Regions from separate parts of the Homo sapiens genome. Here region 2 is linked to region 1. A link means that fine-mapping ties the variant in region 1 to the expression of a gene that starts in the linked region. Tissue or cell type: aorta. Region 1 holds a variant in brackets; the other region holds the start of a gene. All regions are shown on one strand. Distances are between the middles of the regions.

Region 1 (8,108 bases):
AATGTGCTATTCTATGCTGTCCAATACAGCAGCCACTGCCCATCTGTGGTTATTGAACATGTGCCATGTGCTAGTGTGACTGAGGAACTGAATTTCAAATTCTATTTACTTTTAATTATTTAAATTTGAAGAGCTGCATGTGGCTAGTGTCTACTGTGTTAGACAGCATAGTTCAAGATCTAACTATCACTTACAAGAAACACAGAGACTGGTGAACATGTTAAATGACAACACAGGGATGCAATAGGAAAAACTCAGAAAGTGGGAAACTACGAGGCAAATGACCCAATCTCTCTAATAAATAAACTGCATGGGAAAAAGGAAGAGGAGGTGTGCGTGTGGGGGAACCTAGAGCTTAAGAGATTTAGGAAGTTTATCAGCCAACTGCAATGTGTGGATCTTGGTGAATCCTGATTCAAACAAACCATCAAAAAATTATGAGACTGTCTGGGTGCAGTGGCTCATGCCTGCAATTCCAGTACTTTGGGAGACTCAGGTGGGAGGATCACTTAAACCCAGGAATTCAAGACCAGCCTGGGCAACATGGTGAGACCCTGTCTCTACAAAAAATAGCCAAAAAAATTAGCTGGGTGTAGTGGCATATGCTTGTAGTGTTAGCTAATTGGGAGGCTGAGGTGGGAGGATCACCTGAGCTCAGGAAGTCAAGGCTGCAGTGAGCTATAATCATGCCACTGCACTCCAGCCTGGGTGACAAAGCAAGACCCTGCCTCAAAAAAAGAAAAAAGAAAAAAAATTGAGGAAATTTAGACACTGACTGCATATGCGATGACATCAAGAAATGTTTAGATGTGATAATGATGTTGAGGTTATGCTAAAAAATAGAATCTTCATTTTCTAGAGGCAGCTCCTGACATATTTACCAATGAAAGAGTATGATGTGTGGACTTTGCCTCAGTTTCATCCAGTAGGGGGAGGAAGTGAATGGGATATAGATGCAATAAGATTGACCTTATGTTGATAATTGTGGAGGCTGGGCGATAGGTATATAAGCATTCATTATTATTATTTTCTCTATTTTTATATTTAGAAATACTTATAATAAGTTTGAAAAATCAAATCATCAGAGTAATCCTAATGTTGGTGTAAGAGTATGGGCAAAAAGGCACCTTCCTTGAATATTGGGAGCTTAAAATTTCACAGTGAGGAGTAACTAGGTACATTGGTCAAGATTTACATTACGTGTTTTCTTTGCCTTACAAATCCTAAAAATCCTAGTTTTAGGAATTTCTCCCATAGACATATGCTAGAATCTATGTAAAAGATTGTGAAGTGCAGGATCATTTATAATAGTGAAGAATTAGAAATAGCCTAAGTATCCTTCTGTTGTGGATTAAATAAATGATAGCAAGTAACTACTGTGGAATGCTAAGCAGCTTTAGAGAGAATGAGATAGATTGGGGTGGACTGTCATGGGAAAGATTCATGATCTAGTCTCAGGTTAAAAAGAAAAGCAATTTGCAAAAAAATATGTACACCCTGATCTAATACAAAATACATATGTGTATGTGTACACAAAGATAAAGCCTGGAAAAACATACACCTAATTAATTTGGGGAGGGGAGGAACTTACAACTGCCTCGTTACGTGTGGGTGTCAATTAGCTTCAACTCTTGTCGTTTGTTACTATGAATAATCAACAGCTGGTCCTCCCATCAGGTACCCTGGCCTTTCTCCTAGAAGAAAATGTATGTGTCTTCTGGGGCTGAGAGGTTTCATCCAACACAAACTGTTCATCCCTACTTCCAAAGTAGGGCACGTTTCAGAAGTTTATTTATCTTATGATAATAGCTCCCAATTACTGAGCATTGCCCCGTGCTGAGCATTGGGCTAATGTCTCTGTCACCTCACGGGCTCTGGAATAAATTCAGGTTCTCCCACTTGCTACTGTATCACTTTGGACTAGTTACTTCAGCTCAACTTCCTCATGTATAAAATGGAAGGAATATCAGTACCTATTGTATGGTTTTGAGAAGTCAGTGAATAATGCATAGTAAGTGCCTGGTGGATAGATATAAATACTCAATAAAAGTCCACTATCATTTTCTCACTTCAACCTTCCAACAATCCCTATGAGGTAAACGCTATTATTCATCCATTTGACAGATAAGGAAATTGAGTCTTAGAGACAATGGTGTGCTGGAGCCAGCTTCCATGGGCTTGTGAAAGCCAATTGTTAAATTTTCAAAAGTTTTTTGAGTTGGCCGACATCATGTTGATAGTTTGAAAGTAGCCATGATGGGGTATTTCTGCCATGAAAATGAGCGAACCCATTTCCCCCACAGAGCTGCTTGTTAAACATTTACCAGCACACCACTACTTAGAGCAGTAAGATAACTTATCTGAGGCCCCATGGCTGGTGAGTGGCAGAGCCTAGTTCTAGCTAATTCCAAAGGTCTTGTTTGGATATTTGTAGATATGCTTTGTTTGAACAAATCCCTCTTTAAAAGTAACTCTTATCTCCTGGAAAGGCTGTTTAACATCATGTCCCTTGACACTGATTCTCAGATTTTTAGGGTGCATTGGAATCACTTGGAGGGCTTGTTGCAATAAATTGCTGGGCCCTACCCCAAGAGTTTCTTCTGTAGTAGGTCTGGGGTGGGGCCCAAGAATTTGTGTTTCTAGCCAGTTCCCCCAGGTGATGGTAATCCTGCTGGTCTGGGGACCACACTTTGGGAACTATTGTTCTAGCGCAAAATCAGAAATTTTGTGCTATAAACCTTGCCATAATCTTACTTAGGGCCAGGACTTTAATCAGTTCTTTTCCAACAGAATTTAGATTCTAGGCCCTGAGTTTTTCACAGGTGACCATTTGGTAGGATATCTGTGTTCCCAGAAGTATGAGCACAGGAAAACAGGAACCCAATCTTGGTGCCTGTTTCTCCAGTTGGCCCCCATTTAGCTCTGGCAGATATCCCAGGAGCCAGGGCCTCTCCCCACACACAGCAGGAGGCAAATGAAAAAAAGGAAGATTTCAAAGTCTATCTTTAAAACCTGGCAGAAACCTGCCCTATAATTACCCTAAGTGAACTAGTTACAACTTCTCTCGTATTGATGTAGGATTATTATGAGATTGTTCACACAGTCTGGTGGAATTCAACTAATGAATTTAGAGGTGTTTTTTTTCTTTTTTTTTTTTTCCTTAAAACCACCCTCCTAACTAACTCCTGCCTCCTAAATATTGTAGAAAACAAAACCAGGAAGGAAAATGAGGTAAACCCTGAATTAATGTTCTCAATCAGAAAATGTTTATTTACTGAAATGATTGCTGCTTTTGGAAGTACAACTTGCTAAGTCTGGTTTTCTAACTTAAGTATTTCATTTTTCAAAAACACTTAGATGGGGCATGAAGAGTAGACGAAGCAGGAGGGCATGAAGACATATATAAAAGCACCCTGTGGACATCCCTGCAAAGGAATCTAGAGAAGCTAGGATGGGGCGTTGGCCATCCCAAGTTTGCAGTGATTTGACTTATCTCTGCAACCAGGTTCTATGAATGTGCTGGCCAGTGTTGTAGAAGGAAATAGACCAGGGTGAGGGCTCTGGTGGCCACTCTTATAATCTTAGGTTTGGGAGGTAGGAAAGGTATCCTCGGCTTAAAATGTACCAAGGGCTTATACCATATGGACTTGCTTTCATTTAGGGAATCTGATTTCAGGAATATGATTTTTTGCAGATAATCGGAATCCCAGTTTCTTGAGAGTAGGAACCAAATCTTACAAATCTTTCTGGCCCTATGTTCCAGAGCACAGAATTAGTGTGTAAGAATCTCAATAAATGCTTATGAATGACAGGATGTTAATTTGGAAAGAATAAGGGTTTTAGAGTCAGTGATTTGCTTTCAAATCCCATCTAAACTTTCTATCTGTGTGACCTTAAGCAAGTCATTTAACTTCTTTGACACATAGTTTCTGCATCTGTGAAACAGGGGTCAATCAGTCCACAAAATTTACTGAGTGCCTGTGTGTGCCAAAACTGTTCTAGATACAGGAGCTACGTTAGGGAACAAGGCAGTCAGAATGTCTGTTCTTGAGGTATATGTGTATGTAGCATTAGAGCCTATCTCAAGCTGCTTCTTGGGAAGGCTAAATGTGAGCTAAGGGCCAAATCCTGGGTTCAAGTCCTGCCTCTACCACAAACTAGCTGTGACATCTCAGCAAGCTGATAGTAATAGGACCAGCCATATGGGGATACTGTAAGACCCCCACCACATGTCCATACCTGTCTTTGTGTACATTTGGAAAGGGCATCTTTTTGGGCACAGGAGTTACATGAAAAGGCACTCTTACCATGGGGCTAATGTGGTCCCATTTCAGAGCTTGGTAAGCAGAGGCTGAATTCAGCCTACAGAGTATCTCCTTGGCTGGGTACCTTGTACAGATATATGTAAAGCCCCTAGAACTGTGCCTGGCATACAGTAAGTACTCAATAGGTACTAGCTTTTATTACTGTATGTGATGAGAATTAATGTAAGCAAGGCATCAATAGTATATGATTGGTGTTCAGTGACTGTTAGTTCCCTTCCTCATGGTCTGTGGAAAAATAGTAACCATATATGTCAGAACAAAGTGTAGATGATAAGCGACAATAGCTTACCTTGTCTTGTCTTTTGTTTTAGCATGTGCAGGAGGTAGTCGGGCCTAAGAAAAAGAGCCCTGGACTAGGAATCAGAAGATATTGCTCTTGCCCCAGTTTCCCCTTGCTTGGCCTCTGCCGAGGCAACCTTCTCCAAGC[C/T]TCAGTTTTCCCATCTGTAAATGAGATGAAGGTGTGGACTGGCTGAGGTCATGAGCTGGCATGAGCACATGAGTGCATTTCACTGCAACAATTTCTTACTTTGCCTAGAGTGTGTATAGACAAATAAGGGCATGAGCCAGACTCTGGGAAGGGGGTACTTTATGAGTAAGTCTTAGAAGGACTTCCTCTTCCAACATGCCTTATTATACAGGCTCTAACCGAAACAACAGGACTTGCCCACACAGTGGGTGACCTCTATATGGTGTCAAATGACCTTTAACTGAGAACCATGGGGATAACTGGCTAGTAAGCCCAGCTATTAATCGATGGCTTAGGCATGCAAGATTTTGTATCATGTTTTAGTCTTGCCTGGGCTAACTATGTGACAGTGGCTAAGTCACTTCTGGTCAATATGGTCTAGGATTCTATCCAGCTCAGATATTCTATCAGTCAATGACTAATACCTTCCGTTTTTCTTGACTTTTCTAGTTAGAACTAGATTATTCAAATTCCTAATCAGGCACTTGAATGAGGCATTCTTTCTTTCAATTTAGGGAGTGAAACTACGTGGTGGTTTCCAAGCAGTCAGTGTTTTAGCCTTTAGGCAAGTGCGTTTCCAAAACCCGCCCCCCACCTTTTTTTTTTTTTCCTTCTTAATTCCATTAGTCTGCAAAATAGCTAATAAAAGTCATCATTTATTGAGTTTGTTGTGGGTCCAGAACTGGGCTAAAGTGCATTTAGATACAGTATCTCACTCAATCCTTACAACCAGCTGATGAGGCAGGTATTACAACCATTTTACAGGTGAAGAACTGGAAGCTCAGGGAGGTGAACTAACCTGCCTAAGGTCACACAGCTGATATGTAAGTGGTGGGGTCTGAGGGCGAATCCTGGCCTCTTTCCCCTGCAATATCCTGCATTTGTTAATTATTCCTCTTTATGTAGCATTATGTGAAGTGGCTTCTCTATTGTAGTTGTTCAATATTCTAAGTCGATTAATGTTCCACAAATATTTACTAAAAACCCACCTCGTTACAAAAGAAGGTTCTTCACTGGTGTGTATGTGACCTGTCATTATCTTATGCAAGCTGTATAATGATGTATTTGAGGCAACACCATTGATCTCTTATTGAGTGCCTACTGTAAGTAACATTTATTGGTCAATTGATACCATGTCTTAATGTACTATCTCATCTAAGCCTTACAACAATCCACGAGGCAGGGCCTCTAATTATCTCCAGTTTACAGATAAGGGATGTGAGGCACAGAGCAGGGATTTGTCTGCAGCCCTACAGCTCCACAGCTAGGCACTGCCCCAGTAGGGGAATGATTCAACATCTTCTGTTTCCTTTGGCTCTCTGCCAAGGGTCCAGTGGTCCTGTGTTAAGTTTGAACTCAACACGGTTCATTGCTTGGTTAGACTCTAGCAGGGCTGACTGTGAACCACCAAGATCACAGATATTCTTGCTCATCTCCCACTCTGGAAAGATGGACAGAAGTGCACAGAGGGAACCAGCTGGGGCTGTTATCAAGTCAAAGAGTGCAGACAGCTGGGGTGGGAGCTAGGACTAGCACACCTGCCTTCCCTCACTTGGTGGAAGGGGGATCTGATATCCAAATACCTTTCTTTCCTCTCACTGCTGTGAGTCACCTTGTGTCTGCATGAGGAGGCTTCCTGTGATGTCTGCAGCTGCCCCTCTAAGATGAGAGACTTGGCCAACTAAGACAGGAGTCAGGGATGTGCCATGTTCAGCCAGCCTTCTTAGAGTAAATGATGGAAAATTCTGGTTTCCAATGACTAGTGCTGAGTGGCACTTTTGGAGCCATTTTGTTAAACTGGCTATTGGGAAACTGAGCTCCAGTGTCAGTTGGGAAGGACGGAGTGTCCAGAAATAGAACAGGACATTGCAAACGAGCCATGAAAAACAAACTCAGGCCCTGGCCTGGCTGCCTGGGCCCAGATGTTCTCCCACAGAAGCTTGGCAGAACATGCGTGTAGGGCACTGCCTGGATGAGCCAGGTGTCTCCAAGGTTCTGGACATAGCTTGGCTGTAGTGTTTGGTTCCAGGTTCTGAAACTCAGGTGGGCCAGAAAAGAGTTCAGACACATGAGACTCATCTGTGATCCCACAGGCTTCAGTTCTAGATTCTATTTTTTTAATTGGGTGGTTCTTGGGAAAACCGATTCAATATATTGTAGACCTACAGATTTCCTTATTGATTGTCATCTCTTTTAGGAACAACTTTGCATATGTTTGGAAGCTCTGTTATCTCTCATTTCTCCATCTCTTTCCTTTTCTCCTCCTTCTCCCACCTCTCTTAAACTACAGGGTAGTAGGTAAAGCTTGGGCTATAGAGTGTAGCAGAAACAAGTGTGACTCCTAGTTTTACTTTTTGCACTGTACGACCTCAGGAAACTTGCTTCACGTCTCTGAATTCTAGTTTTCTTTTGTAAGTCGTTACAATAGTTAACACCTACCACATGGGGTTTGGAGAAAGATTACATAATAAAATGCATGTGAAGATAACTGGCACAGTACCTTGCTCATAATATATGGTTAATAAATGCTATATATACATAGATACATTCTTCTCCTCCATTTTTCTTTTCTTCTTGCTCTCTTCTTTTCCTTCCTTTCCTATCCATCTTTGGAACACAGACTCTAAGGTGGCCCCCATGATTCCTACCATGACCAAAGGTGCTCCTACCCCCATGAAATTCCTTCTCCTTGAATATAGGTGGGATCTGTGGCTTGTTTCTAATCAATGGAACATAAAAAAGGTGATGAGATATCACTACCCTATGATTAATTCATGTTATATAAGATTCCGTCTTGCTCGACACTCTCTCCCTTGCTGGCTTTGAAGAAGTGGCTGTGTTAGGAGGTCATATGGCAAAGAGCTGAGGACAATCTCTAGGAGCTGAAGGAAGCTTCCAGCCAACAGCAGGCAAGAAGCCTGGGTTCTCAGTTTTACAGCCACAAGGAAATGTTCTGACTACAACCTGAGCAAGCCTGGAAGTGAACCCTTCCTCAGTCGAGCCTCCTGATAAGAATCCTACCCTGACCAACCTCTTGATGGCAGAGGATTCAGCTGGGCTGTGTCAGACTCCTGACCCACAGAACCTGTGAGATAATAAGTGTGTGTTGTTTTATGCCTCTAAATTTGTGATGATTTGTTACACAGCATAGAAAATGAATGTCCCTTCTTTTCCAATTCTCCCTCACCCCTTTTTACTCATTCACAACTTTCATAATTCTTCCTCACCCCTTTCAACTAATTCACTAATTCCATAATCAAATTATATGTCTAAGTAGAAAATGCAGTAGAACGACTTCCATATATTGCTTACTGAAT
Region 2 (8,104 bases), 41 kb after region 1:
ACATGACATCTTCCCATTTTACAGAATTTTAAATTGAGACCCAGCAAACATAAGTGGCTTGCCCAAAGTCATACAGCATGTCTAAATGAATCTTAATGATGATGCTTTGCATTTACATAGCAGATGTTTTCTAAGGCAGTAAAAGTATGTTGCAAAGATAATTTTCACACTATCCTGGAGGAAGGTGGGTAGCAAGTAGCTTTTGACTAGATTGGCTGAACTGTGGCAGAGAGGGCAAGGAACTCAGGAGGATTTGACCGAGGATGTAAGTCCATTCCTCTGACTCTCTAAACAGACTGTGGCATCCAGACAACCCTCAGTTCTCTTAACTGTGGGATGCATGGTTGCTTTCATGGTTGCAAAAAAGATAGGTAATATTTTTGGGAGCAGAGGCACGTTGCAGAACAGCAGCCATATTGACATCCAGAAATAGGTTTGTTCATATCCCCACTGAGGAAGGCAAAAGGAATGAGAGGAGTCACTTCAAGAAAGGATAGTTAGGACATAAAGGAATTGGGAAGTGGGGGTGCCAGCTCTGCTCTCTTGCAGAGCATCTTTCTAGCCCAGGTCCTGCCTGAACACAGGAGCCCTTGAGTTTCAGCCTCACCACAGGACTTGGTCCAGAGCAGCTTGGAGGGTGGGCACAGACGATAGTCTGATGTTATAAGTCCCTGCAAAAGAATTCCAGAGAGACCCAGTATCTTAATGGCTGTCTCTTATGTACAACCAGCTCTCACCTCAATTCCCTGTGCCAGAAGGGCCCTGAGAATCCTCTATAGTTCAAAAACTTGGTAGCTGTGGATCCATTCATCGCTACCTGTCCTTTGCAACACAGTCACATTGAGAAAGATGTAAACCACAACAAAAATATTCCAAGCTGATAAGGGAACTGCCTCCTCCCAGTGTGACACCGTTTCCTGAGTAAGTGATGATACTCCGCTGAAAGGCAGGTCAGACTTCTGCAAGGTGGGGAAGGGAAGAGGTTGCTAGGTCTTAGGAATTCAAGGGGGATTTGCTGACCCAGAGATAGAGCTCTTTTCTCTACAAACAAGGCATGTTTGAGAACAATTTGCTTCCCCACCCCTACTTCGCCATTTCCAGACCTGTGGATTCTGATTGATGACTAGACCAGGGGTAGTGGAGGGACTTAAAAAGAGTTCCAAACCCTTTTCTGGAATGTGTCACTTACAAGCACAATGGCAATAAAAAGCCTACAGTGAAGAAATCAAGGGTGTACAGTGAAAAAATGTCCTGCTTCTTCCCACCCTCATTGTTGAATGTTTACACATGCGCCATGGGTGGTTTAAAGATGCAGTGAACCCAGGAAGTGGTAGCTCTTAGAAGGAAAATTTCGGAAAGTTGTTCCAAATGCGTATCACAAGCCACTCCTCACTCCTGAGTAAGGAAGCAGTCCTGCAAGACCCTCCCACACGTTATTCCTCTTCAGAGCAGGGAGATGTGGGACACTGCTGCCAGCATTTAGACTCTAATGCTTGCTCTAGGTAAGACTTCAAGGAATGTAGCTTTGATTTTCTAAGTATGCCAATGGCCCAAGCCACAGCTTTCCGTGTCCACTTTTTTACACTGACTCCAGGGGTGACAGTGCAAATAATTCTGCTGGACTCACAAGGACCATGTCCTTCTTTCCAGATGTGCCCTTACACATTATCCCACAACAAGGTTCATAGCCAGGTCAGATAAAGTCCTCGGGGTGTGCTTTCAGCGCTGGACAGAGCGATTCCCATTATCCAAACATGAAAAGCATTAATCTCCTGTGAGGCGTAACTGGGTCTGTTTGGTTTTTTAATTGCAGCCCCTGCTGTGTATCTTCTCTGTATTTCATTCATTTTGCAAAATGAGACACATCTGCAGAGCTCCTATACACAGCTGAAGCACTTCACAGCCCAGCCTTTGCTATCAATCAGTCCACCCACATAGATGCTTCCCTCCTGCACTATCTCCCGCGTCAAGTATCTTGATAGCTTGGAACAGATTATGAATGAGTATTGCCATAATAGCACTTTATGACTAGGGGTGGGAAGATGGATTTGGGTAAAATTCAAACAAAACCTGACATTTGGAAATTTCTGAGAGATCTCAAAAGCAACAAGCAGTTGGATTTGTTTTCTCTCTTTTGTTTCTCCCCACCCTCCGTGCATTTCCCAGGCACTAGTTTGGCCTCAGAACAGCAGAAGTGAAACACCAAAAATATAATCTAAAAGGCTTTCCTTGTTCTACTACTTTCTGGACTAGAGGAAAGGAGAACCTAGGAAGCTTTAATAGTTCTAAAGAGAATTCTTAGATGGATTAGATAGGCTCAGGTTTTCATTGTATTTGAGTAAAATGATCACTGCCCACAGAAACTTATCACTGGGAAATCAACAGCAGCACTCTGGAATGTAACTAAAAGAAGATAATCTCTAGCTCCTTGTATACACAAATCCAACCTCTATGTGGACATGATATTAGCAAATAAGATCTCTCTTACCCCATCCATGTGGATTCTGACATTAGGCACTAGCCGGAAAGGACTGGCCTGCAGACGTCTGGGGTTGGTCCTGCTTTTCCTGCCATCCTGCAAGGTCATCGTGCCAGGCCTGCGGAAGGAGCCCCCTCTCCCGGAGCTCTGCCCTGAGCGCACTCCATCCAGAAGGCGCACGAGCAGCAGGTTGGCCGGCAGCGCCTCAATGTTGGAAAACACAGGCGTCCTGCATTCGGGGCACCGCAGCTCTTTGTGGGCCTTGAAAACCCTCTGTAGACATGGTTTGCAGAAGGTGTGCTGGCAAGGGAGGACTTTGGCTGTGACATCGAGCTTCTCAAAGCACACAGGGCACTCCAGAAGATCAAGTAACGTCAAATCATCCATTTTATTTCAAAACTCCAGTTCCCACCTGGAGGAGCAGCGTCCACATGGTAGGGTCAGTTGAGCCACGGGGGCAGAGCTGGTCTCTTGAGAACGTCAGAATTTTTGCCTGCTTGAAGGAGGGAGAGGAGAGAAAAAAAAATGTGACTGCTCCGAGAGGTATATCCCACCTACATTGAGGCAGTGTCTCATAAGGCAGTTTGCAAGTACTTTGTTCCGGCACCCAAGTTTCAAATGACTCATTCTGATTCAATGCTAGCAGGTATAAGACTCAACTCGTGCTTGCTGTGAGGATCAGAGGGAACATTCAGCACAAGACTGACTGCTTATTGCCTATGTGGACAGGAAAGCAGGGAGATAAACTGGCCTGCTGAAGTGGCCCCCCAACCCCTCTCTACCAGCCAGGGCGGGAAGAGGTCCTTTACCCCCTGCCCGGGGAAAGCTCCTGGACAGTCTCAATTCTTACAACAAAGCCCCCTCCGAACGCAATTTCTGTGAAGCTATCTCCTCCTCCTCCTTCCCCTAAATCTAAATGTATCTATTATCTGCACCACATGCAGATTAGTTTAGGTGGGTAAGTTTATCTGAATCTCATGCAGATGTAGAATTATTTCCTTCACAATATACCTTCCCACATGATTCTAGCAATGTACAAGAAAAATTTCCACTAGAAACCCATTTCCAAAAATTGTTTTGCCTTAACCACAGGTCAGGGTGCTTGGAAGCTTTGTTTCTTTTCTTTTTTCATCTTTTTTTTTTTTTCTCTCCTCATCCCGATTACCTTAGGCTCAGAGACAATGTTCCTCCCACAAGGTAAAGTAGTGCAGCCTGTTTAGTTACTTTGACATTGTTCTCAATTTCAAATGAAGCAGATAGGAATTCTGGATTGTGGTCACGACCTGTAAAAACCGTACTGGGGCAGCATATACAGGTAGGGGTCGTGTGTGTGTGTACTCTGAAAACAGTACTTGTTCCAGAAACAAGTTTCCTTTTGGATGTATGAAAAGAAGCCTCCAGTTTAGAAAAGTCTGGAAGAAGTCAGCTGTCCCTCACAAGTGCCAGGGCTTCGGTAAGCACCGAGCCCAGAGGTTTGGCGAGAAGGCCAGTGGCCCCACTAGCGACTAGTAAGCAGGACAGACACGACCGAGAATGAGCGATGGCGCCTCGCCTTCCTAAGCCTCCTCTCCAAAGATGTCAGCGCGGCAGCGGGCTGGGGAGGCGTGTGGGGGCCACTAACCTTGTGCATGTAACTTCTGCTGAGTTCAGCTCAGCCCCCTCCTCCGCGCAGCAGGGGTGCGCTGCGCCCTCCAACCGGCTTCCTTTCCTCCAAGCGCCGCTGCTGCCAACCGCTTTGAAAACTTTAACCACTCAGTCTTACTCATTTCAAGGGATCGCCTTACCCAGCCCTGTTAACGCTTTCACTGCCAGGGCGCTGCCTACTTACCACGCTTTTGTTGTTGCAGTTGTTAACTTTATGATCTTTCCTTCAGTTTACTGAATTGCTTCTGGGAAAAGATTGTAAGAGGTAAAATATAAGCCAGTCCCTAAGGCCAAGTATTTACAAAGTTCATATTTTCACCTTTCCCGTTTTCTGTAGTATCCAAGGAGTCAGAACCTGCTCCATTATAAACATACCAAAGTGATTGTGTTTATTTTAAATCTTCATAAGGATTTCCTGGGAAGGTCAAAAGTAAAAATGGTCAAGCTATGAAAACAAGGATAAGTCGGACACCTAGAAAATATTGCTCTTTGAAAATCATAGTCAATCTCTGAATTTAGAGATAAGAGGGACTTTAGTGATCTTTTTGCTCAATCTGTTTAAATTAAAAAACTAGTGTCACGTATATACACATACGTGAAAAATCAAAGCACAGAGAAGCTTTTTCAAAAAAGGAAAAGCAGTGGCCTCCAAGCTCTCCTCCTGCCTGTTATCCACTGTAGTCTTTTCATATCCTCAGATTATGCCTATATTTCTATTTTTTGATTTATCGATAATACATTTCATGTAAAATTACAAAGGTATCCGATTAAGTGAATAATAACAATCTTAATGCCAGGGTAGTCCTTATCTGTGTCAACCACTGTTCTAAATACCTTACCTGTGTTAGCCCTTTAACCCCTTAACAACCCAAGGAGACACTAAACTATTCTTTACTTTCATCTTGCAGATGAGGGAACTTGAGACACAGAGAGGATAAATAACTCATCTCGGGAGTCACAGCTAGCAGAAGGCAAGTGGGCTGTGCTCTTAACAATGTCATGGAGTGATATAACTTTAAGAGGCTGGCCAGGCGCAGTGGCTCATGCCTGTAATCCCAACACTTTGGGAGGCCGACGTGGGCAGATCACAAGGTCAGGAGATCAAGACCATCCTGACCAACATGGTGAAACCTCATTTCTACTAAAAATACAAAAATTAGCTGGGCATGGTGGTGCGCACCTGAAGTCCCAGCTACTCAGGAGGCTGAGGCAGGAGAATCGCTTGAACCTGGGAGGCGGAGGCTGGAGTGAGCTGAGATCGTGCCACTGCACTCCAGCCAGGGCGACAAAAAAAAAAAAAAAAAAAAAGAGGTGAAGAGGTGGTTCAAGGGAGCTAAGCCTCCCCTAAGAGGGCAAGAGGTCAAAAGATAATGGACAAAACTGGCTACTCACTTTCTCTTACAGATGAGGCAGCTGTGCCCAGAAAGATCAAGGGATTCTTTGAAGTTGTCCAGTGAGTTAGGGGCAGAATTGGGACTAGAAACTAGGTGTTTGAGGCCAGGCGCGGTGACTCATGCCTGTAATCCCAGCACTTTGGAAGGCTGAGGTGTGGGTGGATTGCTTGAGGTCAGGAGTTTGAGACCAGCCTGGCCAACATGGTGAAGCCCGATCTCTACTAAAAATGCAAAAATTAGCTGGGTGTGTTGGCTGGGAGTGCTTGGGAGGCTGAAGCACAAGAATCACTTGAACCTGGGAGGTGGAGGCTGCAGTGAGCTGAGATTGTGCCATTGCACTCCAGCCTGGGCGACTAAGACTCCGTCTCAAAAAAAAAAAAAAAAAAAAAGAGAAAGAAACTGGGTGTTCTTTTTAAAATTATTGTTATTACTATATCTTCTCTCTAGACGTAAGGATGACAATTATTTATTATGCAGAGAGTGTTCAGACACAGCTCAATGGGAAAATCTTAAGAGGAGACCAGGAGGTCTGAAAACATTGTTTACATATTTTTCCACGTTCTTTCATGTTAGTTCCAAAACATCAAACATGCATGTGGCCCAGAACTTTAGGATGGAGCCGATGGTTATCTATTTTCTGAGCACGGAGGCCTAATTTTGATGTAGGACAATTTCAGAGACCACTTTCAACTATTACTTTTTTAACGTCACTTTTGAGCTTTGATAACATCACATCCCATTCTGCTTGCCTGTCTCCTTCTATTAATTTCTACTCTTGAGTCTGTGCCACTAAGGAAGCTCTTGAGGTTTACTGTCCTCTTACTCTGTTTCCCACTTAGTAAAGCTGAGTCAGTTTCCTTTGTGCCCTGCAGTGGTCTCACTCCGTAAAAAGGGCCACTCCTATGCTGGAACTCCTGTTGCAGAGATTGGCGATATTTTTCATTATTCTTTCTCTTGTTCTTAAACACACTCTATCTCCCTTACATACTCATATCTGCACCTATATGCAGATGCATGCATACACTTGTGTAAGGGTGCACACATACATAATCTTAATAATAGTAACACCTATGGAGCACTTGCTGTATGCCACTGACCAATGCTAAGATTTTAAACATATTATCTCATTGAATTCTCCCAACCACCCCGTAAGATACTGTAACTTTCCCAGGGTTACAAACCTTGTGATCTGAACTCAGGTTGGTCTAATCCCGGGGCCTGTGTTTCTTTTCATTTTATAAAATCATGTACATATCATAAGTACACCCATGTATCTTTACTATTTAAATCTGCACATGGTTACACATATACCCATATTGTACACACCAGCTGATCTCAGAGCCAACCCAAGACAAAATATTGATGTCAGAAAAGGAGATTGGGCCCCTCTGGGTTGTAGTCTACCCATCTCATGGCCCCTCCACACCCCTGTATGGTCAATGGTCTTAAAAGCTTCAAACCTTCCCATCCCTGAGAAAATGCAGTCAAACCAGCTCAGTCCCAGGAAGGCAGACTAGATCCAGTGGGTTACTCTTGTAGCAAATCTGGCAATTGAAAATCCAGCCAAGTAGAATCGTGATGGTAGAATTTTAGGTTCTAATGGAGGACAGAGAAAAGGTACACTGAAGCGAGGGGTCATCTTTCAGCACCTCTCAAACGACGCCCTGTAGGTGGTCCCCAACACCACCCACATGAGGTTAGTCTTGAAGAGAAAATTTCTTGAAACTTTTAAAGAAGGGCGAGAGTTTTAAATGGGGATTTGTTCTGGCTTACCCAAATACTACCTTGGCATCAAATCAGATGAACATGTAGTCTTTAAAAACAAACAAAAAGGTGAACTATGCATACCTCTTCAGACTCCAGGCCACCTCCCTTCTCCCGCTGTTCCCACCCCACCAACACTCCTGTTTCTATCTGTATAGTTATGGGGTGATGATTGGCTGCATTCTTTTAAAAAATCTGTATGATATGTCTGACCTTCTGCTGTGCATATTTATGAGTACATTTAGATTTATGTATATAAAACACACAAACAAGCAAACCTGGTCTTATTGTTTCCCTAGTCAAAACTCTTCAGTAGGTTTCCATAACCTTAGGATAACATCAAATCCTTCTTCCGCGCTGTCAGGCCCTGCGTGATCTGGCTCATGCCCACCTCTCCTGCTTCAACTTATACCCCCATCACCCCCTCACTCAGCACACTCTTGACCCACTGGGTTTCTCTTCACTCTTAGGATAGCGTTTTTGTCATCAAGTATTTGTTCATGCTCTTCTTTCTGTCTTCAACACACCCTCTTCCCCTTCCTCTCTTCCTAGTTACTCTCTTCCTCCCTGCTTTGCTTTTTTAATGCCCTTCTCTGCAAATTTGAGCTTTAAAAAATGTCAGTTCCTCCAGGAAGACTTCTTTGATTTTCATGAGTAGAAAGTTTGTCATCCTACACTTCTCCTTTATAACAGCTATCACAGCTGTAACTCAGTAATTATTTTATAATGATTTATTTAATGCCCAACTCCCGCAAATAGACTGTAAACTCCAAGAGAGGAAGGACCTTATGTGTCTTGTTGCTCTTCTGTTCCCCTGTATCTA

Which allele goes with the higher level. Positions count from the first base shown, and alleles are read on the strand shown. Sizes are in standard deviations (SD) of each study's normalised expression.
As copies of C replace T in region 1, the expression in aorta of the gene that starts at base 4,217 in region 2 goes down (moderate effect, 0.56 SD a copy in GTEx).

Evidence for each region. PIP is the estimated chance that this variant, and not a neighbour inherited with it, causes the effect.
Region 2: it holds the start of SH3RF2, and the variant in region 1 is fine-mapped to the expression of SH3RF2 in aorta (GTEx, PIP above 0.99).

The regions. Positions count from the first base shown.
Region 1 is chr5:145,973,736-145,981,843 of GRCh38, reverse strand. All of the region lies in intron 2 of SH3RF2 (SH3 domain containing ring finger 2), which reads right to left. The region is part of intron 3 of LOC107986458 (a long non-coding RNA gene); the gene reads left to right. Among named protein-coding and RNA genes, the nearest start is that of SH3RF2, 41 kb to the right of the region's middle. RefSeq lists an enhancer at 2,204-2,498. The variant C/T (reference allele first, on the strand shown) is at 4,753.
Region 2 is chr5:145,932,691-145,940,794 of GRCh38, reverse strand. It overlaps SH3RF2 (SH3 domain containing ring finger 2), which reads right to left and starts at 4,217. Exons shown (of 10, transcript NM_152550.4): 1 at 4,101-4,217; 2 at 2,489-2,972. The coding sequence starts at 2,866. LOC107986458 (a long non-coding RNA gene) reads left to right here. Exons shown (of 4, transcript XR_001742913.2): 4 at 5,032-5,094. RefSeq lists an enhancer at 3,902-4,479.